Regions from separate parts of the Homo sapiens genome. Here region 1 is linked to region 2. The links come from fine-mapping of genetic effects on gene expression. A gene starts in region 2. The other region holds a variant in brackets. All regions are shown on one strand. Distances are from middle to middle. Region 1 overlaps MCC (MCC regulator of Wnt signaling pathway). Region 2 holds the start of DCP2 (decapping mRNA 2).

Region 1 (8,000 bases), 61 kb before region 2:
TACGGGCATGAGCCACTGTGCCCGGCCCTGACTACTCTTTACCCATCAGTGGCCCACAGAGCCCTTGACTGTTACCAGTGCCTTCGAAAAAGCCAGCGAGACTCCTCAGAGTTCAAATCCATGTCCAAGTTCATACACCATCCACCCAACTGTAGAAAACTTCCAGACTTGTAGGAACCAACATTTGTCCCTGAATGGAAAAAGGATGACCCTAGTTGACCCCTATTTCAGCAGCTGTGGATGAATACTGTTTTTGAGCCACACAAAGAGTGGGATAAAATGAAAAGGGAAGTGGGTGGGGTGCTTTTTAAAAGGGAGCCCCCACTGAACAAATAAGCAGCAGAATCTTCACTGGTTCATGAGGAGGACCATTATTGTAAAAGGTGCTGTTTTATTTAAACTTGCTGATTCTTCATATTTGGTTGATGTATAAAAGCAATCAAGCAATGGAAGTTGTGCTTAGAATTCCATAAAAGCACATGGGTCTGCAGGACATTAATGGAATACAAAGTGTGCCTGTGGCTTCATTAGCACGCAAATAAACTGCTGAGCCCCAGAGCCAAGTGCCTAGAAGCACAGAGGGTGAAGACTGAGGCTCACTCAAGGGATGGAGGGGTTGTTGCTTGAGTAATTGAGATTTATTTTACTTTTTTGCCATCCCTCCAGCATCCCCAAAGCTCAAAGAGAAGAAGGCCTTGCCTGGGACCTCATAAAGGCAGAGTGGTAGAGGGCACTGGAACACCCAGCAGCCACTGGCAAGGCCTGTGAAAACTCCAGATGGATTTCCTGGACAAGAAACATGTTCATAGCAAAGTCTGGGCAAAAAAAAGTTAGACTGCTGTTGTCCTTGTGCTGCTACTCCTGGCAAAACACAGCCACCGACATACCTGCAGAACCTCATTATCTGGGGACACTTGAGCCTTAGTTCTGCAGGGCTGCACTGTTAAGCAGAGGTCTTGTTTATCTTGCACTCTACTGTATTCCCTTTGTGAATCACAGGCTACTACCCAGTGAGATGCGTAAGGGCACAGGCTCTGCAGACAGAATCCCAGGTGGGAGTCCCAGTTCTGCAGGGACTAATCTTAAGTTCCTCATCTATAGGCCAGGCGCGGTGGCTCACGCCTGTAATCCTAGTACTTTCGGAGGCCAAGGCAGGTGGATCACCTGAAATTAGGAATTCAAGACTGGCCTGGCCAACATGGTGAAACCCTGTCCCTACTAAAAATACAAAAATGAGCTGGGCATGGTGACAGGTGCCTATAATCCCAGCTACTCAGGAGGCTGAGGCAGGAGAATCACTTGAACCCTAGGGGTTGGAGGTTGTGTTGAGCCCAAGATCGCACCACTGCACTTCAGACCGGGCGAAAGAGTGAGACTCCATCTCAAAAAAAAAAAAAAAAAAAAAAAAAAAAAAAAAAAAAAAAAGTTCCTCATCCTTAAAAATGAGAATCATGATAGTACTGACTTCCAAGGTTATGTGGGAATGAAATGATGTTATCCTTATAAAGGACTTAGAGACAGCTGTTATCTGCTGCCTGGATTTTCTAAAAAATAAGTAAACATTGTGGTGATTACCATGAAGGAAACGGGATGATGTGATACAGTCACTGTGGAGATTTTTTTTCCAATAAAGTAACTTTAGTTTGCAATGAATAATATGAAGGAAATGGTAAGGCGTGGTGATGTCTTAGCTCTGGGACATGAGTTTAGATGGGTGGTCAGTCTAGGCCTCTCTGGGAGGTGACACTGAAGCTGAGATGAGGAGGAGAGAGGCAGAATCATATCCGGAAGAGGCCCTGGCTGTGCAGGGCTGTGTTGAGGACCTACAGGATTCCATCAGGGCAAGGGTGATTCCAGCAGCCCAAAGGCCCAGCAAGTAGCACTCAGGTCAAGCAGGGCCTTAGAGGTCCAGGCAAGACCACAGGGTTTATTCCACGTGTAGGTGAAAGGCAGTGAAGGACAGTAACATGATCAGATCTGTCATGTGAAATGTTACCTGGGCTGCTGTGTGAAAACCAGGGCAGAGGGATGCAGGGGAGGAGACAGAGAAACCAGTTAGCAGGCTGTTGTGGTTGTCCGGGTGAGAAGTGATGACCACTTGGACCTGGGTGTGGTGACAATGGCAGGATGAGACTTGGCAGATAGAGTTTGCTGTTGAACAGATGTCAAGGATGAGGGGAGGAGGAGTTAAGGCTTACTCCAAGTAACTTAAACTGCCTTTGCAAGAAGGCAGAGAGATCTGAGCCCAATGAGTGACTGGCTGAAAGGTGGTGCCATTAGCCAACACAGGAGAGAGAGTGGCTGTTGGAGGTCATCTGGGAAGTAATCCTCTGGACATGTGAAATCGCAGATGCCAGTTAAGAGGCCGCAAACAGACAAGTCCAGAGATCCAAGGAAAGGCCAGAAGATTAAGAGTGTGGAAGTTTTTAGGAAAAGGGAATGGAGGGAGTCCATTAGAGAAAAGGATAAGATAAAATACAGGCCAGGCCCAAGTCCTAAACAACACCCAGTATTTTGTCATGGAGTATAGAAAGGGAGCAGCCAATGAAGCAGAACGAAATCAGGCTCTGGAGGCCTTGTGCAAGCCATGAGCAAAGAGGCTGTCAGCCCTGCAGGTGATGCGGGCAGGTAAGAAAAGGACAGAAGGGACCAGACCGCTGGATGCAACAACTTGGAGCTCACTGGTGAGCTCAGTGATCCACGTCAGTGGAGACAGAGCCTGACGGGTTAAAAGTAAATGGAAGGTGAGGATGAGAGACATCACATATGCAGACAATTCTCTTAGTGACTAATTCCATATAATCAGCAATTACTAAGAAATTCTAGGCCTTGTGGCTGCATGGCTGTGACTCCCTGTGGTTTGGTCTGATTACAGCTCCTCTGAAAGGTTTCCTGGCCAGCTGTGAAGCCACTCACAGCCTCATTGAGACTGGGCTCTCGCCCGATGACTCCTGCAGCTCCTCAATTGGACTCTAATCACAGAGTACCGCTGCTGGCCTTTTTATTTTAGGGAGAATATAACCTCCTTACTGATGGCTCACGAAGCCGCACTGCCAGGCTACCCAGGTACACCAACAAGCACCACTTCCGAGGCTTGCTTCGCTCTGCCCAGCGTACTGGCAAGCCACCTTGGTTTTCATATTACCTTTAAATTCACACCACGAGGCTGCCTCTTAATTCCCTGTGTATATTCCACTGCCTTGAAACGTACCACATTACGTTTCAATTAAAAAGAATCCACCAGGTGGAGTTGCTCAGGCCTGTAATCTCAGCATTTTGGGAGGGCAAGGTGGGAGGACCACTAGAGCCCAGTAGTTTGCAACCAGCCTGGGCAACATAGTTAAGACCCTATCTCTACAAAAAAAAAAAAAAAAGTTTTAAAAATTAGCCCAGCATGGTGGCACACACCTGTAGTCCCAGCCACTCAGGAGGCTGAGGTGAGGGGATTGCTTGAGCCTGGGAGGTCGAGGCTGCAGTGAGCTGTGATTTGTGCCACTGTACTCCAGCCTGGATGACAGATCAAGACCCTGTCTCTTAAAAGTCCCACCCTGGCTCTGCGGTTAGAGTCATACGACCTTTTATCACCAGGAATAAGAAGCCCAAAAGCTGAAGTGGGAAGACGTGGAACTGAAATCCATGTGTGTACTGGGGGACTTCAGTTGTCACAGTCATTACAATCCAGCATTGTTTTTGCTTGATGCTATGGGGTATATTTGTGAGTGCCAATACTACTGGGCATAAAAAAGGAATGGATTATGTATTTCTGGCCATTCCAGGAAACACTGTATGAATACATTACTATTGAAGGTGCATATGGAACGTGTAGTGTTGAATTTTTGCTTTCTCATTTGTGTGAAGCCAAGAAAGCTTGTTTTGGCCTAACTTATGTACCCAAACCATATAAAATCTTAACGAAAGGCTAAGCAAATTTAAATTAGAAGGAGAAAGGAACAAGAATGGTTGAGGTTTCAATGTGACTTGAATTAGTAAGCTATGTTTCTTTGCATTTTCCATGTCATCGTTTGAAAATCTGAGGAAAACTGTAGACTTGATAAAGTGAGCCCCGTGCTTGCAATTTTGCATATAAATTCAGAAAGTCAGTTCCAGGAGTAACTGAAGCTCATCCTCAGGTCCAGGTGAGGAACTCTTCTGCCTTACGCCAGTCCCTCAAGCTTGCCTGATGACAAGAGTCAGCTGGGGCCCTTGTTAAACTGCAATTCCTGGGTCTCAACCGAAACCTACTTAGTCAGAAGCCAGGGAAAATATCTGGTAATGCTGTTACTGGAAAATATTACCGATCCAGACCCCAAGAGAGGGTTCTTGGATCTT[G/C]TGCAAGAAAGAATTCAGGGCAAGCCCACAGAGTAAAATGAAAGCAAGTTTATTAGGAAAGTAAAGGAAAAGAATGGCTACTCCATAGAGCAGCCTTGGGGGCTGCTGGTTGCCCATTTTTATGGTTACTTCTTGATAATATGCTAAACAAAGGGTGGATTATTCATACCTCCCCTTTTTAGACGTTATAGGGTAACTTCCTGATGTTGCCATGGCATTTGTAAACTGTTGTGGCGCTGGTGAGAGTGTAGCAGTGAGGACGATTAGAGGTCATTCTTGTGGCCGTCTTGGGTTTGCTGTTTTGGCTGGCTTCTTTACTGCAATGTTTTATCAGCAAGGTCTTTATGACCTGTATTTTGTGCTGACCTCCTATCTCATCCTGTGACTTAGAATGCCTTAACCATCTGGGAATGCAGCCCAGTAGGTCTTAGCCTCACTTTTACCTAACTCCTATTTAAGATGGAGTTGCTCTGGTTCACATGCCTCTGACAGCATTAAACAATTGGTCTAGAGCAGCACTGTCCACTGGTGATATAATATGATCCACAAATGCAAGGCATGTATGTAATTTTAAATTTTCTAGTAGTCCCATGAAAAAAGTAGAGACACACATGAAATTAATTTTAATAACAATGTAACCCAGTATGTCCAAAATATCTCAACATGTAATCAGTATCCTTTTTTTTTTTTTTTTTTTTTTGATACAGAGTTTCATTCTTGTTTCCCAGGTTGGAGCGCAGTGGCGCGATCTCGGCTTACTGCAACCTCCACCTCCCAGGTTCAAGCGATTCTCCTGCCTCAGGCTCCCAAGTAGCTGAGATTACAGGCAAGCGCCACCACACCCAGCTAATTTTGTATTTAGTAGAGACAGGGTTTCTCCATGTTGGTCAGGCTGGTCTTGAACTCCCGACATCAGGTGATCCGCCAGCCCCGGCCTACCAAAGTGCTGGGATTACAGGCGTGAGCCACAGCGCCCGGCCCCTGTAATCAGTATTTTTTAAACTAAATAGATATTTTACATTTTTTTGTGTTGTCATGAAAACAGATCAACCAACCCAAATTTTAGGTTTAAGTTTACAGTTTGGCCTCGTCTTTGCATCTTTAAATAAATGAGCATCATAGTTCTTTCCTGGGGTTTCTCCCAGCGGTTCACTCCCATTCCCTTCTGAAGGCCAGGCAGTTCTAAGCTCCCAGCAATGGCTACTCCCCACTCCTGCGCCACAACCCTAAGCTGGGGTTGGCCTGGGTCTGAGAGACTCTCTCCTGCCCTTCTGGGGTTCTATCCTCCTTTGGAGCCTGCCAGATCCAGAAAGTTCCCTCTGGTCCCCTGAGGGCCTGGGTGCTGGGGAAGGAAGCGTTTTGTCTTGTGGAAGGGCTGGGATTTCCAGTCTCCCTGTTCACTGAGTGTGGATAGGAGTGGGGGAGGGAGGGGATTTGACTGCTCTAGGTAGCATCCCAGAGTTTTTTGTTGTGAATTTCTTATTGAGTTTGTGGTTACATTTTTAACTCTTCAGTATTTTTTTTCCTTTTACACTATTAATCAACATTAGAATGAAAGATAAAGGGCTCTAAATGGTAATAAAATGTAGGGCAAAAAACCCTTCCCTGCTGTTTTTAGCTGGAGGGAAGCAGGAGTCCCTGGCTTCCCTCCGCTGGAGGAGGACTGCTGGGAAGGCCGAGGAGGTGTTGGGGGGCGGGTGGGGAGGAAAGGAGCCCCCCTCCTGCAACACCATCCTCACTGCTGGTAGGAAATGCTGCCACTCTCCAATGCCGGGAGGAAATGCAGCCAGATCCGAGATGTCCTGGAGGCTGCTAGGGCCCAGGAAAAACACACGCTCCTTCCAGCTTAGCAGAGGCGGGTAGGAGGATTTACTGAAAAATGAGTTCTGGGCTGAGGGCTGGTTGCTAGACTTCCCTTAAAGATCCTGCCCCTTCCATCCTCTCTCCCAAAAGCAGGCCTGGATTTTACGTTGTAATTCCTTTCTTCATTGATCAGTTTGGAGAGCTTGACTTACCCTCATAGTAGCTAAAGGCAGAAATGTAAAAGATTAGATATATGAAAAGCTAGGAAAGGAGAACCAGGGTCTGAACAGTTTGGGCAGCAGAAAGGAGCCTTCTACCCCGACGTCACATTCCCATGCCGTTCCTACATGACTCTAACTCGCACTTTACAGAAAATATACAAAATTGTAAAAATATCTGGCAATGCAAAAGTGAGTGAAGTAGAAAATGAAAGCCTCCCATCAACCCCCTTCAGGAGTTAAGCACTGTTGAGTTTGTGTTTCACCTTCTAGTCTTATTACAGTGTCAGATATTCACACTCAGCTTTTCAGTTTTTACAAAAATGGCATCTTTAGAACTCACCCTTTTTGCTTAATGTATCAGATATCCTCCCATGCCAGTGCATGGCCATCTGATTTTTTTGTTTGTTTTGAGATGGTCTCACTCCGTCACCCAAGCTGGAGTGCAGTGGCAGGATCATGGCTCACTGGTCTTGACCTCCTGGACTCAAGCGATCCTCCCAACTTAGCCTCCTGAGTAGCATGGACTACAGGCATGACCCACCATATCTGGCTAAGTTTTATATTTTTTTGTAGAGATGGGGTTTCACCATGTTGCCCAGGCTGGTCTTCAATTTCTGAGCTCAAGTAATCCACATTCCTTGGCCTCCTAAAGTGCTGAGATTACAGGCATGAGTCACTGCCCCCAGCCCTCCATCTGCATTTTAAAAATATTTTTCAAGCAGAGCATTTCGGTAGCATGGGTAGGCCGTGATTAACCAGTTCCCTGCTTGTCTCCCTTTATTAGGCATTATTGTAACCAATGCCTAAGTGAATCCAAATATAAGTGATGTATCTTTAGGAACCTGTGCTCCTGATATCTCTGTAAAATCAATTCCTAGAAGTGAAGTTGCTTAGTCAAGGGGCATGTTCATTTATTATTTTGCTAGATCCTACCCAACTGTCTTATAAATTAATCATGCAAATTTACATTCTACATACAGTGAGTCCTTTTTAAACGAATTCCTTCCCTAAATCCTGGTTTCTTAATATGCCCAAAGAATCAAATACATTACCTTCAGTAAGTTGTTCTAAAGCTGTTTTAACAGTCACTAGAAGCTGTCACCCAGGCACGGTGCTCAGCACTGGGGGTGCATTGGGGAATCAAACCAAGTAAAGTCCTTGCCACTCTAGAACCCAACATGACCATGGGGGAGCGTCATGGCTCCAGCACGTAATACGGTGACATAGTGCTGAGTGTGCTACTAAGTGGAGTAACACTGTGCATGTGATAGAAGGATCTTGGAAGGGAGTCAGAGTAGTCGAGAAGGCTTTGATTAGTGTTTCCCTGCTGGGTCTTGTGGGAATTAGAGGAAGGCAATGAGCTGACTGGATACTGGAAACCTCCCTGAACTGACTCTAATTAGCTTGGGTTACCAAAGTAGTAGAGGATCCACAGAACTTGAAGCTGCTTTGCCTGTGGAGGGCACGTAGTCAAAAGTGCAAATGTAATTTCATGGGAAATAAGGACCCTTACAATGAAGAGAGTATCATATCTACTCCCTCTACCAATTTTTTGGTTTTTGGCAAGGTGGGATCATGTTGGTCTCAATGAGTGGGGACCTGTTCAAGGTAGGTTGCTAAACCTGAGTGGTTCAGGAGATACTTAGG
Region 2 (14,964 bases):
TCACTAGAATATTTTAAGACCAAACTCTTCCCTTCCTCTCCTCTAATTCTACTCCACTCAGAAAGTAACCAGTGTTATCAGTTTGGCGCATATTCTTTCGGCATACGAATACATATACCCCTTCCCCACCCACACACACACTTAAAAATTTGTTTTCACAAAAGGCACCAAGGGACTAAATAAGTATTTCACTCAGTATACTGTGTACATCTTTTCAACACACAAATATTTTCCCTCAGTTTACTGTGTGCTAATTGCCTGAGGAACTTAGAATGGCTGCACAATATTCCAATAAATAGAATGTTACATACTAAAGCATCAGCCTTAGGTTATGAGCAGTCTAAAGGTTACAAAGTCACATTTTGAAAATTTAAGTCTGCTGCTCTCCACATCAAAAGGCAAGATTTAACAGAAACATGTAATTTATCAAAAAACAAAGTAACACAAAAGAAAACTTCCTATATACACTAATAATAAGCAACAGAATTGGGGCAAAAAATGAAGGGAGTAAAAACAAGCACCTAGCTTGAATTCATAAATCAAGACGTACATAAAAGAGAGCAAAGAAGTTCAGAAAAATTAACCTCAAATTAAGCTTTATTTTTACAGAAGTTTACCAAATTCTAAGTGTAAAAAAAAAGTTTTAGTCTACAATGAAAAGCTTGAATCTGTAACATTAAAAATATTTCAATTAATCAAAGCTATAAATATTAACTTGAAAATGGCATTTATTTTAAAATCTGAAGTTTTGAGAAATGTTTATTTGGTTTCATTATTACAGCCAGCCCTAATTTTTAAATATATCATATCCTTATTTATACAGCCAAAAACAGTAACTGCAAAAAGAAATTTCTTGAAAGGAAAAAAATGTTACTCCATTCAAAAATATTTGTTTAACAGCTTAAATACACTCACTGGAAAACCAACTATCTTTAACACTTGACAGGTGCTTAACATATTGTTTACAAAATACAACGTAATTATTTTGTGAATAGGTTCCATACATAAAATCGTTAACAGCTGACATCACTTATTTAAATGATGTAATCCTAGATAATATGCAAATTAACCCCAATACTAGAAGGAAGACTAGCTCTGATGTCTGTAAAATGTTTAAGATTACCACATCTTTTTCTAAATCAACTCTTAACCCTATTAACACACAGCTAATTACTGATCACCTTTCTAAATACTTATCTTCAATTTTTTTCTAACTATAAAATGCATAAAAAATATTGGAAACAAAAAATAAAGATCACAATCTCATAATCCCACTATTGGTTGATGTGCGTCTAGTCATTAACCCACATACACATATCAAATTCAGTTTCTTTTTCCTTTTTTTTTTTTTATTTGGGACAAGAAACTAAATGCCTTTTCAGTGGTTCATTTGAATCTACCATACTTCAAAAATTATAAATCTACCATCACCAAAGAAGTACAGCGCCATTTGTATTAGTTGCAAAATTAGGCTATTTACTTTTCTGTATGTACTTTTGTGAGGTTTAAAACGTTAGGCTTATTACTTCTCCTTGGTATGAGAGAAAAAGCACAGGCACTGGAAAGAAAAAGGAATAGGTGTGAAATCTTGATTTTGTGAATTAGGATGAATGTGACCTTATGTAAATTACAAAGTTCCTGAATCTGTTTGCGCAGATGAAAATGGAAATATACTAACTGCACCTACCAAACACGGCTGACTGAGGATTAAATAAAACAATACATGTAAAGGTAGTGCCTGGTGCACAGTAGAAACTCCAGGCCGGGCGCGATGGCTCACGCCTGTAATCCCAGCACTTTGGGAGGCCGAGGCGGGTGGATCACGAGGTCAGAAGTTCGAGACCAGCACGGCCAAGATGGTGAAATCCCGTCTCTACTAAAAATACAAAAATTAGCCGGGTGTGGTGGCGGGTGCCTGTAATCCCAGCTGCTAGGGAGGCTGAGGCAGAGACTCGTTTGAATCCGGAAGGCAGAGGTTGCAGTGAGCCAAGACCGCACCACTGCACACCAGCCTGGGCAAAAGAAAGAGGCTCCGTCTCAAAAAATAAAAACAAAAAAACAAACAAACAAAAAAAACCCCAAAAAACTCCACAAACACCAGTTCTTTACTTTCCATTAAAAAAAACTGCATGAAGGAGATACAACTACTAAAAGCCTGCCTTTTAAAACATAAACACAGTAACTGTGAACGAAAAGGTGTTATCACTTGTAATCACAATCCACACACACTTGGCGACAACTCCGGGTATCACTGCACTCCAAATTTTACCTTCGGAAAATAAGCATTTTTAAGTATCCTACACGTGTTTGGCTATCTGAAATCAGAGTTGACAAGGGGGAAGAATGCAGAAAATTTCTCATCTGAAGTATACACCCTGAGTTAAAACCCCGCGGTTGAGAATTTCCTTTAAAATAGGATTATTAAGGATAAAAAGAAAAGCAGCGCTACACTTTTTCCCTCTCTCCCCCAAAGACAAGTCCAGGGATGAGAAAAAAAAAGTAATTCCTTACAGGAATTTACAGAGAACGCCACGGACAAATAACACGCAGGCGTCAGAATAAGTCCGAAAATTTGCTCCTTGCGCAGGTCCGCGTACCTGGGATCCTAAGCCTTAAATTACTACCCTGGGGGTCTTCCTTCAGAATCGGGGAATGAGACACAGGGAGGAGGGGGTGCACGGCGTGGAAAAGTCACAGAGGCAGAAAAAACAATGGGAGAGGGAGGCGGCGGCGGCGGCAAAACGCTAAGACCCAGGCTCCGGCGAAGCGGCTACGCCTGCGGGAAAGCAAAATAGTTGAGTAACTTAAAAAATGAGGAAATTCCGGGTGTTCTGCGGGGAAGGACGGAGGGCCTTGAGAAACAGGGAGGCTGCGGCGGAAAGAGGGGCGGTGTCGTCGGAGAGCAGGGTCGACGATGGAAAGCGAGCAGCGGCGGGAGCGGAAAGCGAGGACATGGACGTGGGCGGGGAAGAAGACCCAGAGGCCTCTGGGGGTCCGCGAAACTGAGAAAACCCGACGGGGGCGAAAGGGGGTCGGGTAGCGCGGTACCTGCAGAGATCGTCCAGGACGCTGCCGGGAATCTCCACCCGTTTGGTCTCCATGATGAGGACCCACAGCAGGAACAGTGCATCCCGGCTCCGCGCGGCCGGGGACTGACGGTACGGCACTAGGACTCCGGCTCGCCGGAGAGCTGGCAGCCGAGGAAGCCGCGGCAGAGACGACTCCAACGGAGACGAGAAGGGGAAGGGGCGGGACCCGCTCACTTCCGTCCCGCTCCCTCAGCCTTGGACCCCAAGACTGGGCCAAGGCTCGGGGCGGAGCCCCCGGAGTCACGCCCCTGCTCGCTTGAAAGGCCCAATGGGAAGCTGAAGAATTGGGACTCTAAGCACTCTAAGCCAATGAGACGTTTGTTTATTGGTCTGCTACTTCCAATCCGTCTTCAAGCTGCTCAGTTGCTACTCAGAAAACCAACTTCCCGCCGCCTTTGAGGTGGCTACACGCATGCGCACCATGCCTCCTGCGCGCTTCTGGGAAGTTCAGAGGGGTCGGGGCTTAGGTGTAGACCCCGGACACATATCCGGGACTTTGGCATGTTGTGCAGGACCTCGCGGTGACTGAGCTCTTTCCTCTGCAGGGCCGACCCTGAGAATCCGTACAACACAAGAGTATGCTCGCGATTCCTGTCACCAAGTATCTTGCACTTATCGCAGCCCCCACCAACTCCAGGCCAAGAGCTGTGCCTCTTTCACTACAAACCCTTGGAGAGGGTATCCATTTTGGAGGTGGCTCTCCTCTGTGCTTCCTTAGGCACCTGGTTCCAAACATGAAGACAAGGACTTTATCTCAGTATCTGGCACCTAGCAAAATCTTAGAAAATACTGATTTAAGCTGAACTCTGATCTGTATTCCACCCTCTGCACAAAGCAATCCCCACCTGCTCGTCCTTATTCATTCCTCGTCTTGCTTAATGGAGACCAATCCATTTGGGATCTTTGGAGAAACTAGATCCATCTGTTCTTTTTCCTCTTACATCAGACCCACAGGCCCACACACACCTGCTCCGTCACAAGTTTAGTCTGTTCTACCATTTAATCTCCCATCTTTTGTCTAAATTTGTCACATGCCACTGTGTACTTCAGTTTTGCATCATTTCTCCATACTACAGTGAGAGCTGCCTAACCACTGACTCTGCCTCCATTCTTGGCCTGTGCAACTGCCTACATTTTGTTTTGTTTTACTCAGATAGGAACAAGTTATCTTTTCAGTTTCTGCTGTATGATCAAGCCCAAGTTCCTTTGGCATAAGAGGCCCGTCACCATCTATTTTGCTCCCGTTTTCCATCTTTTTTTTCCCCTCTTTCTTGGAGAATTCCTCAAATTTATCTTCCTGACAACTACAGAGTTTTTACTTATTTAGAGTTCTGTTTTGTTCTTCAAATGCCCCTTTCTTGTGGTGTCACATTCTTGCTTTGTATATTTTATTTTATCCTTCTGAGGATATTAATAATAGATTTTGACGTTTTCTTCTCCCTGAGTAGTCTTATTCCTCTCAGCTGCTTTTTGCTATTATCTTGATCTCATCTATCCTATTAGAAGCCTCTGTAGTCCTTGACTATTCACTCACACTTAAGAGTAAGGCCTTAACCTGGAGTCAAGTGCCTTGAAAGCTAATTGGAAGCTCTCACCTTGTAGATGGTACTTGTTTCCTGAGAGCTTCACTGTAGGATGATCTGGCTGAGCTGTTGGTTGGAAACACATGGTATCAGTATCTGTACGTAATTCTTTCTGCTGATGAAATTCCCTAAAGAGAAAATGCTTCCAGGCACAGCTTCATGTATTCTGGGAGTCCAGTACAGAAGCACAGGCTGCAGTATTCCATTTGCTTTATTCAGTACTCCCAGCACAGTCCAAGTCTTATTTTAGATTTCCTAAGAAGCAGGCACTGAGACAAGATTTTGAGTGCAGATAGCCTGTGAGGGAGGTGATCTTGGGAAACATTGGTAGGAGAGCAGGAAAGTGAGTCAAGGAGGGGAGGAAAGCCAAAAGGTTTATTATCAAGGAAATTAGCACTGTGGTTAACTGGAGCTTACTGTCACTGGAGAACTCTGGTGGCCAGTATAAAACATATACCTCAGAGTTATCCCACTCAAGGGGTGAGGGAGATGGGGATTTATATACCAACTTCCTTCATTGGTTGAAGGCAGCTCCTGGGGTCTGCACTCTAGCCTGCTACATGGGCAGCAAGATGGGCTCTGGTGGCCAGAAAAAGTCCTACGGCAAAGAAATGCAGATACTAGCAGTTGGACCTCCAGCCAGTGTAGTGGATGGATTGGTAAAGGTAAGAGTGAGCCCCTTCAGTTCTATTTTGCTGGGTGTGCATTCTACCTGTTCTGACTGAATGTCTTTTCTCTGACTGGGAGGCACCATAGTGGTTTTCTTAGTTGTCTCACTTAGAGCTCAAGTCTAGTTTTTAGAGTATTCTAAATGATGGCAGTGGAACAACAGTTCAAGGCAAAGTGGTGCTCACCCACATGGGCCAATGGTATATTAATAGAAACAAGCAGGTTACCAAGCACTTGCTGAAGCACCTGGAGGAATTCTTCTTACTAGCTTTCTAGTCTCCCAGTTTAGGGGCAGCTATACAACCCCTTTTGGGCTCTTAGAGGCCAGGAAGTCCCCAAACTCTCACATGGTGTTAAACCAATCTGCCTTATTAAGAGTTTCTGAGATGTCTGTGGTCCAAGATATTATCTTGCCCATGCCCCATCCCTCCACTGCCTCCTCACACACAGATTTCCAGGAGCTGGACTAGTGCAACCCTTATAGCAGCCCCCCAAGCCATGACTTCCAAAGAAGCCAACTGTATGGTAGAGGCACCTGACAGCAGTAACGTAAGCAGACCCAGGGGAATGACCCTGTGTGGCAGACAACCTGAATGAGTTTGCAGTTACAACCAAGATTCATTCCTTATCTATGAGGAACATCTGAGCCCTGTGGAATGCAGGCTGCACAGGAGGGCTAGGCCCTTTGTTTTGGGCTAAATGAAAGTTGTCAGGTGGAAGCTGTTAGGGAGAGGGTGCAAAATGAAAATGCTATATAAACTGCATGCTTTCTGCAGGTGATGTTGTTCTCATGTCCAGCTCACCTCTAGTGGACCGCTCTGTATGCAAGTTCCTCTCAATAAACCATATGCCTCATTTGCTGGCTCTGGGTCTCTTCTTCAGCCTCTTGAACCTAGTGCCATCCCTGTTAAAGTGAATAGGGACACCAAGGCCTCAATTCCATCTAATTGTTCACAGGACCCAGCTGAGAATGACAAAGGGGAGCTTAGAGTTGAGGTAACAGGAGAACAGGAGATGCTAGGGTTCTTAAATTATAATACTGATTTGATTTTTAAATAATTAGGTTGATTAAAACCTTTATAGTTTTAAAATATGCTATTTCATTTAGTCTTTTTTTTGGAACAAGATCCCACTCTGTTGCCCAGGCTGGAGTGCAGTGGCATAGCTCACTCCTGGGCTCAGTCTCCCACCTCACCCTCCCAAGTAGCTAGGAATACAAGTGCGCACCACCAGGCCTGGCTAATTATTTTTTTAAAAACTTTGTAGAGACAGGGGTCTCACTAGGTTGCCTATGTTAGTCCTAAACTCCTGGCCTCAAGCAATCCTCCTTCCTCAACTTCCCAAAGCACTGGGATTACAGGCATGAGCCACCGTGCCTGGCCTCATTTAGTCTTTATTACTACATGAAATAGACAAAGATTAATGAGGCTTATAAAGATTAAATGACTCAAAGATTAATGATTAAGCAACAGTATATAATTGAGTCAGGACTAGCATTCAGTTCTAAACTCATAGCAGGAATTCTGCCTTAGGGAGAATGACACAAAAACTATTGTTTATGCCTGTACAGCATATTATACTATAATATTCAAATATAATAATCTCACAACAAAATAAGCTGTCACTGAATCCTAAAAAATATTTAACTTGCTTATTGGCCTTTTAAATTGAGTGAGGTCGCCTGTAATCCCAGCACTTTGGGAGGCCAGGGCGGGTGGATCATGAGGTCGGGAGATCGAGACCATCTTGGCTAACACGGTGAAACCCTGTCTCTACTGAAAATACAAAAACTTAGCCAGGTGTGGTGGCAGACGCCTTTGGTCCCAGGTACTTGGGAGGCTGAGGCAGGAGAATGGCGTGAACCCAGGAGGCGGAGCTTGCAGTGAGCAGAGATCACACCACTGCATTCCAGCCTGGGCGACAGAGCGAGACTCTGACTCAAAAAAAATAAAAATAAAAATAAATAAATAATTAAATAGAGTGAGGTTAAATTAAGTCTGTCAAAGCTTCTTCACATCCCTACAAAGTTCTTATGGTTCAACTCAATGTTTATAGAGTAATACATAATTGCCCCTTCTGTTAGTCCCACACTCTTTCTAGTATAATATCTCCCACAGCATATAATATGTTTTAGTAACATCTACCAAGAAACAAAAATCTCCCTTGATCTCTATGGCAGTCTTACTAGATGCTGACTGTATTAGTCCGTTCTCACACTCCTAATAAAGACATACCCGAGACTGGGTAATTTATAAAGGAAAGAGGTTTAATTGACTCAGTTCCACATGGCTGGGGAGGCCTCACATCATGGCAGAAGGCAAAGGAAGAGCAAAGTCATATTTTACATGGCAGCAGGCAAAACGAGCATGTGCAGGGGAACTCCCCTATATAAAACCATCAGGTCTTGTGAGATTTATTCACTGTCATGAGAACAGCACAGGAAAGACCCACCCCCATTATTCAATTACCTCCCACCAGGTGCCTCCCATGACACATGGGAATTATGGAAGCTACAATTCAAGATGAGATTTGGGTGGGGACACAGCCAAACCATGTCACTCACCAATCCCGTTTCCTCTTCCTGGATTCACAGGCCTCCTTGCATTTAGATGGAAAAACGCAATTGAGTTCTGGCCAGTGGAATGAAGATAAACGTGATATACCCAACTTCAAAGCACAGCTCCTGAAATGCTCTATGTAATTTTCACATAATTTTTATTTCTCCCTTTTCTCTTCCCAGCTGAAAGCAAAGAACTCTTTAGATAGTGGAGTCACACTGGAAAAAGCACAGACCCTTGAGTGTACTGCTTGGAGGAGAGCTACCCTGGAGCATTTGCTCCAGATTCTGCATGAGCAAAAAATAAACTTTTGCTGCATAAAGTATCTTGTTTTTTTGTTGTTGGGTTTTTTTTCTCTTTACACACAAACCCTTTTCCATAATCAGTAAATGCAGGTTGTAGTGGTCATTCTTGTTTGCATGCCCAGCACTCATTTACCCAGGGCCAGCTGCATGTGTGTGTATGTATAAACCGTATAGTTGCACAGAACCCTACACTCAGAAAGGCCCCATGTTTGGTTTAATGCTCTGCTGTTACCATCTTGAAATTCTCAATTTTGTTTTTGAACTTGTGTTTTGTAAGTAAAATTGGAGGGACAATAGAGCATGAGCAGAGCCGAGACGTGCAATATGCATGTCCACTCACTCTTTGCCATGCCATTTGCATATAGCATTTGCATTGTCCTATTTAAATAGAATTTCACTGAACTCACAATGCATGAAAGTTCAGCAAGATTCAGAGTAAGAACAACATAGGCACATAGGAACTGAGTAGGTGGGGTCGCTGTCAGCCCTAGGAGGTCAAGCTTCCTGTGTATCAGAACTTGTTCTAATGCAAGAAGACAATGGCAGTCTAAAAACACAAAGAACCAAGAAACTCTATCATATCCTTTCCTATTGCTTTCCTGATTTAGCCAACCCCTTATGCTGAAAATGATGACATAGAAGGAAAGGGGAAGATCGAGCAACCCATCTTTTCCTTTTCTTTTTAGTTTTTTCCTCATCAATAAGAAGGTAGAGAGTGTGGTAGAATATGTATGTGCATATCAAGAAGTGACGTAAAAACAGTTGACTTTCGTACAGCATTTTGACTGTTCTGGTAACAATGAAATATATCATACATGTACAAAGTATGAAATAAGAATTATGTAATTTCAGTGATTCCACGTACAAGTTAAATGTTCTTATATTTGCATTTAAAACCAAAATTGTGGTTGGGCGCAGTGGCTCACACCTGTAATCCCAGCACTTTGGGAGGCTGAGGTGGGCAGATCATGAGGTCAGGAAATCGAGACCATCCTGGCCAATATGGTGAAACCCTGTCTCTACTAAAAATACAAAAATTAGCTGGGTGTGGTGGTGCATGCCTGTAATCTCAGCTACTCGGGAGGCTGAGGCAGGAGAATCACTTGAATCCGGGAGGAAAGATTGCAGTGAGCTGAGATAGCATCTCTGCACTTCAGCCTGGCGACATAGCGAGACTCCATCTCAAAAAAAAAAATAAAAAAGAAAAAAAAAAAAAAAAGCCAGCATTGCATAATATAAAGATGGTAAAAAGTCTTTGTAATGATTTTAATTTTACTTAGAATGAATTTAATTTTACTTAATTTTAATTTTAATCTTTATTTAGAATGACATTAAATATCAAAAACACCATAAGTGAAGAGAGAAACTGTGAAAGAAAGAAAAAGCCTTTATATTCTAGTATTTTTGTTGTTGTTGTAGTTAAGAGATGAGGTCTCAGTTTGTTGCCCAGGCCAGACTTAAACTCCTGGGCTCAGCAATCCTCCTGCGTAACTGATACTATAAGTGTATGCCACCTCGCCTGGCTTTCTAGCACCTTTAGTGACACTTTTTTCCTGCCTTTTGAATAAGGAGCTCTATATTTTCATGAGAGGAACAGGCTCTGCAAATTATGTATTAATAGCAGGCCCTGAATTCACCCCTTACTCTTTCCTAACAGAACCCTGATTAAGACATGTATCCCTTAGCTTCCCTCACACAGCACATGTGACTCTGGGGAAGCCAGAAACACTTTTGGCTCAAAGGCCAAAATCTGGTTGGTAAATCAAACACCACACTCCATTCCCTGGAAATGTACCCATTCTCTGGACAGGTACATACCTACATAGTCCAGTCAGTGTATACCATAGAACTCTTGCTTAAAACTTCGTGATGAAAAAGTCTCTCTTCTTTCATTGGATGTCATCAGGTCAGGATATGATGTCTGGAACTTCTACAGCCAGTACTCAGTGACTGATATACTACTACTCACTATCACTTTGAGGTTGAAGCTAATGTGTGGAATGGGGCAAAGCTGAAAGATCTGTAGGAAAATGGACCCAGAATTGTCAGGAAACGGGCTGGGAGAGAGACAGAGAGCACTAGCTGAGCTAACAGGTATCAGAGTAGCCAATTAGACCAACGAGCCAAAAATGAGAGTAGCGTTTACTGCAATGATACAAACAAGAAACAGAGAAAGTACCCACAGTTTCTGTTCCATTTCCCCCATGGAACTGCGCACTAGCTGCAGGTCACATGAGTCAGCACGGATGTAGGGGGTCATGGAGTCATATCACTGTTAAGGGATCCCTGAAGAAAAAGCTCCAGCAGTTTTATGGACTCTGAGGTGGAGTAGGGGAAGGCAAGGGGGAAAGGCTAAGAGTGGAAAAGTACTGAGTACCTAGGCAACCTGGAAAAGAATGTCAAGGTTTCCCCTCCCCTCCCCATAAGGAGGCCTCAGCAGAGAAGCCTAAAGAACCCTCTCCCCAGCCAGGCACAGTGGCTCACGCCTGTAATCCCAACACTTTGGGAGGCCAAGGCTGGCAGTTTGCTTGAGCTACTGAGTTCGAGACCAGCCTAGGCAACATGGCAAAACCTTGTCTCTACAAAAACTACAGAAAAATTAGCCTGGCATGGTGGCATCCACCTGTAGTCCCAGCTATTCAGGAGGCTGAGGTGGAAGGAGTGCTTGAGCCCGGGAAGCCAAGGCTGCAGTGAGCTGAGATTGTACCACTGTACTACAGCCTGGGTGACAGAGCCAGACCCTCTCTCAAAAGAAAAAAAAAAAAATCCTCTGCACAAGGCCTCAGATAAAGAAACCTAGGAATGAAGGAGGCACCAGGGATAGGAATGCAAATATTTACAGTCATGAGTTGCTTCAGAACAGGATACATTCTGAGAAATGCATTGTTGGGCGATTTTGTCATTGTGTGAACATTATAGAGTATACTGGTACAAACATAGATGGCATAACCTACCTAGGCTATATAGTACAGCCTATTGCTCCCAGGCTACAAACTTGTACAGTATGTTACTATACTGAATACTATAGGCAATTGTAATACAATGGTAAGGCTTTATAGATCTAAAAATATCTAAACACAAAAAAGGCACAGTCAAAATATGGTATAATAATCTTATGGAACCAACACCTTCGAATATGTTGTTGGTTGAAATGCTGTTATGTGACCCGTGACTGTATCAGAGCCTGCAGCACACTAGCTGTGCACCAAGTCTGTGGAAGGGAGAGCAGCTTTCCTCCATGAGGGCTGCCAGGTAGAGGCTTTGTAATCACCTGCAATCAGACAGACCTGAAAAACCACACGTAGGTTTTTAACCAGGAGCTGGAATCCTCAAGAACTAAGTGAAACCCAAAGCCTATCCTACCTCTGAACTTACATGAACCAAATATTTCTTAAGCCGAAGCTGTTATTTGAGCCTAAATCATTTTAATTTATATGTTCCTCTATCCATCCAGTAGCTCAAATCAGAAAACCTAAGAGTGAATCTTGATTCCTGTTTTTCTCATATATCACTATGCCCAATACATCAGCAATTCCTAACTAGTCTACCACCAAAACATATCTAAGATCCATCCCCATTTCCTCCACCTTAACTTTCCCCACCTTAGTCCAGGCCACAGCACTTCTCACTTAGACTACTTCAACTGGCTTCTAACTGGTCTCCTGTCTTGCACCCATGCTCCATTTTAATCTGTCCTCCACAGAGCAGCAAGAGTGATCAGGCTGGGGATGGTGGCTTACTCCTATAATCCCTACATTTAAGGAAGCTGAGGTTGGGGGATCGCTCCTGGACAGGAAGGAGTTAGAAACCAGCCTGAGCAATATAGTAAGATCCCGTATCTACAAAAGTAAAAAGGAAAAAACAAAAAAAAACCCATGCATAGTGGTGTACACTCATACTCCCAGCTACTCCAGAGGCTGAGGCAGGAGGATCCCTTGAGCCCAGGAGTTCAAGGTTACAGTGAGCTATGATTGCATCACTGAACTCCAGCCTGAGCAAAAAAGAGTAATAATCTTTTATTTATTTATTTATTGTAATTTTTTTAGAGTCAAGTTCCCACTCTCTTGCCCAGGCTAAAGTGCAGTGGTGTGATCATAGCTCACAGCAGCCTCACACCCTTGAGCTCAAGTGATCCTCCTGCCTCAGCCTCTCAAGTAGTTTGGACTACAGGCATGTGCCACCATGCCTTGCTAATTTTTGTTTTTGTTTGTTTATTTGTTTTGTTTTGAGATGGAGCTTCTTTCTTGTCGCCCAAGCTGGAGTGCAATGGCCTGATCTCCGCTCACTGTAACCTCCGCCTCCCGAGTTCAAGCAGTTCTCCTGTTTCAGCCTCCCAAGTAGCTGGGATTACAGGCATGCACCACCACGCCCAGCTAATTTTAATCTGTATTAAAATTAATAATTTATATTTTTAGCAGAAATGGGTTTTCACCATGTTAGCCAGGCTCATCTTGAACTCCTGACCTCTGGTGATCTGCCCACCTTGGCCTCCCAAAGTGCTGGGATTACAGGCATGAGCCACCATGCCCATCCTAATTTTCATATTTTTTGTAGAGACAGTCTTACTATGTTGCCTAGACTTGTCTCAAACTCCTGGGCTCAAGTAATCCTCCTGCCTTGGCCTCCCAAAGTGCTGGGATTACAGACACGAACCACTGCAGCTGGCCTGTGATCATCTTAAAACCCAAATTTGAATGATGGGCATGGTGGCATGTGCCTCTAGTCCCAGCTACTCAGGAAGTCCCTTGAGCCCAGTCTGGCCTGAGCAACATAGCAAGGCCTTATCTTTATAAGACCCTGTCTCTACAAAAATAAAGGAAAAAATGACATAAATTTAATCACATCACTCTCCTGCTTAAAATTTTTCATGACCCTCAGAGTAAACTCTAGTTTGCTATCTAAGAGAACTTACACGACGGAGCACTAAATGTCACTTTAGCTTCATCCTATGTCCCATCTTCATCTGTCTCTGCTACACTCTAGCCATATTAGTCTTTTTGAAATTCGTCAAATACCCCAAGCTCTTTCCAAATACCATTCCCACTGCCTGGAATGTTGCACCTACCTTCCATGATCCCCTCCTTTTCACCTTTATGTATGGGTTAAATGTCACCTCTTCAAAAAACCTTCCCTGGCCGCTCTATTTAAATAGTCTCGACTGGGTGTGGTGGCTCACACATGTAATGCCAGCACTTCAGGAGGCCGAGGCAGGTGGATCACCTGAGGTCAGGAGTTCATGGCCAACATGGTGAAACCCTGTCTCTACTAAAAAAAAAAAAAAAATTAGCCGGGTGTGGTGGCACGTGCGTATAGTCCCAGATACTCGGGAGGCTGAGGCAGGAGACTCACTGGAACCCAGGAGGCACAGGTTGCACTGAGCTGAGATTGCATCACCGCACTCCAGCCTGGGTGACAGAATGAGACTCAGTCTCTAAATAAATAAATAAATAAATAAATAAATAGTTTCTACTGTCATTACCTATCACATGTCTTTGTTTCCTTCATACTATGCTTCTTCAATTTGAAACATTTTCAATGCCTCTCCCCCATTATACTATATGTTACAAAAAAGCAGGGATCTTTTCTAATTTATCCACTAATTCCCCAGTGCTTAGAATACCTCAGTCATATCTATGACCTCTATAAACATTTGTTAACCAAAGAATAGGAAAATGAATGAGTTATCACCAAATATGTGCTGAGGTGACTAGGAAGGAGGTGATGAGACGCAAAATCTCAAAATGAGTAAGAGAGAATTACTTTTTAAAAAACAGAAAGAGGCCAGACGTGGTGGCTCACGCCTGTTATCCCTGCTCTTTGAGAGGACGAGGCAGGGGGATTGCTTGTAACTATGAGTTCGAGACCAGCCCGAGCAACATAGGGAGACCCCATCTCTACAAAAACCCAAAAAGATTAGCTAGGCATGGTGGCGCCTGTGGTCCCAGCTACTTGAAAGGCTGAGGAGAGAGGACTGCTTGAGCCTGGGAGGTCAAGGATGCAGGGGGCCATGATAGTGACACTGTACTCCAGCCTGGACAACAAAGCAAGACCGTGGCTCAAAATAAAATGAAATCAGAGTGAATCTCTGCTTTCTAAGAGTGAATCTCATCTTCCTAACATGTCGGAAAAGATGAACTCATTCTAGCTCAGTTAGGTTTTTGTTACTTTCACCAGAGTCCTAATACAGAGCTCGCTTGCTCTATGTGTATATGTTAAACAAATATATGTGATATATAAAACAAATATAAATATAATAAGTGTATAATAATATATAAATGTATGTGAAATATAAACATAGTAAGTATAAATGTACACTGCACATAAAACAACTCTTGAACTCTAGACTATGCCTCTTTTCTTTTGCCCTCCCCTTCCTGTTCCCTGTCATGTCTAACTCCCATGCACTGATGTATTTGCCCAGAATGGGAGGAGGCAGTTGAAAGGGGACAAATGGAATTGTCAGACCCAAGTAAAAAAGTTCTAAGCGGCCGAGCACGGTGGCTCACACCTGTAATCCCAGCACTTTGGGAGGCCGAGGCAGGCAGATCACGAGGTCAGGAGTTCGAGACCAGCCTTACCAACATGGTGAAACCCCAACTCTACTAAAAACATAAAAATTAGCCAGGCGTGGTGGCACATGCCTGTAATCTCAGCTACTCAGGAGGCTGAGGCATGAGAATAGCCTGAACTTGGGAGTCAGAGGTTGCAGTGAGCCGAGATCGCGCCACTGCACTCTAGCCTGGGTGACAGAGCAAGACTC

The links.
Region 1: its variant is fine-mapped to the expression of DCP2 in whole blood (INTERVAL, PIP above 0.99).

What each region holds. Positions count from the first base shown.
Region 1 is chr5:113,029,438-113,037,437 of GRCh38, reverse strand. The region is part of intron 17 of MCC (MCC regulator of Wnt signaling pathway); the gene reads left to right. Among named protein-coding and RNA genes, the nearest start is that of DCP2, 57 kb to the right of the region's middle. RefSeq lists an enhancer at 2,607-3,165. The variant G/C (reference allele first, on the strand shown) is at 4,330.
Region 2 is chr5:112,965,071-112,980,034 of GRCh38, reverse strand. DCP2 (decapping mRNA 2) reads right to left here and starts at 3,237. Exons shown (of 11, transcript NM_152624.6): 1 at 3,049-3,237. The coding sequence starts at 3,101. It overlaps LOC105379126 (a long non-coding RNA gene), which reads left to right and starts at 5,250. Exons shown (of 2, transcript XR_948679.3): 1 at 5,250-5,337; 2 at 8,082-8,224. RefSeq lists enhancers at 2,787-2,896, 3,007-3,056, 3,067-3,156, 3,227-3,276, 2,812-3,571 and 3 more.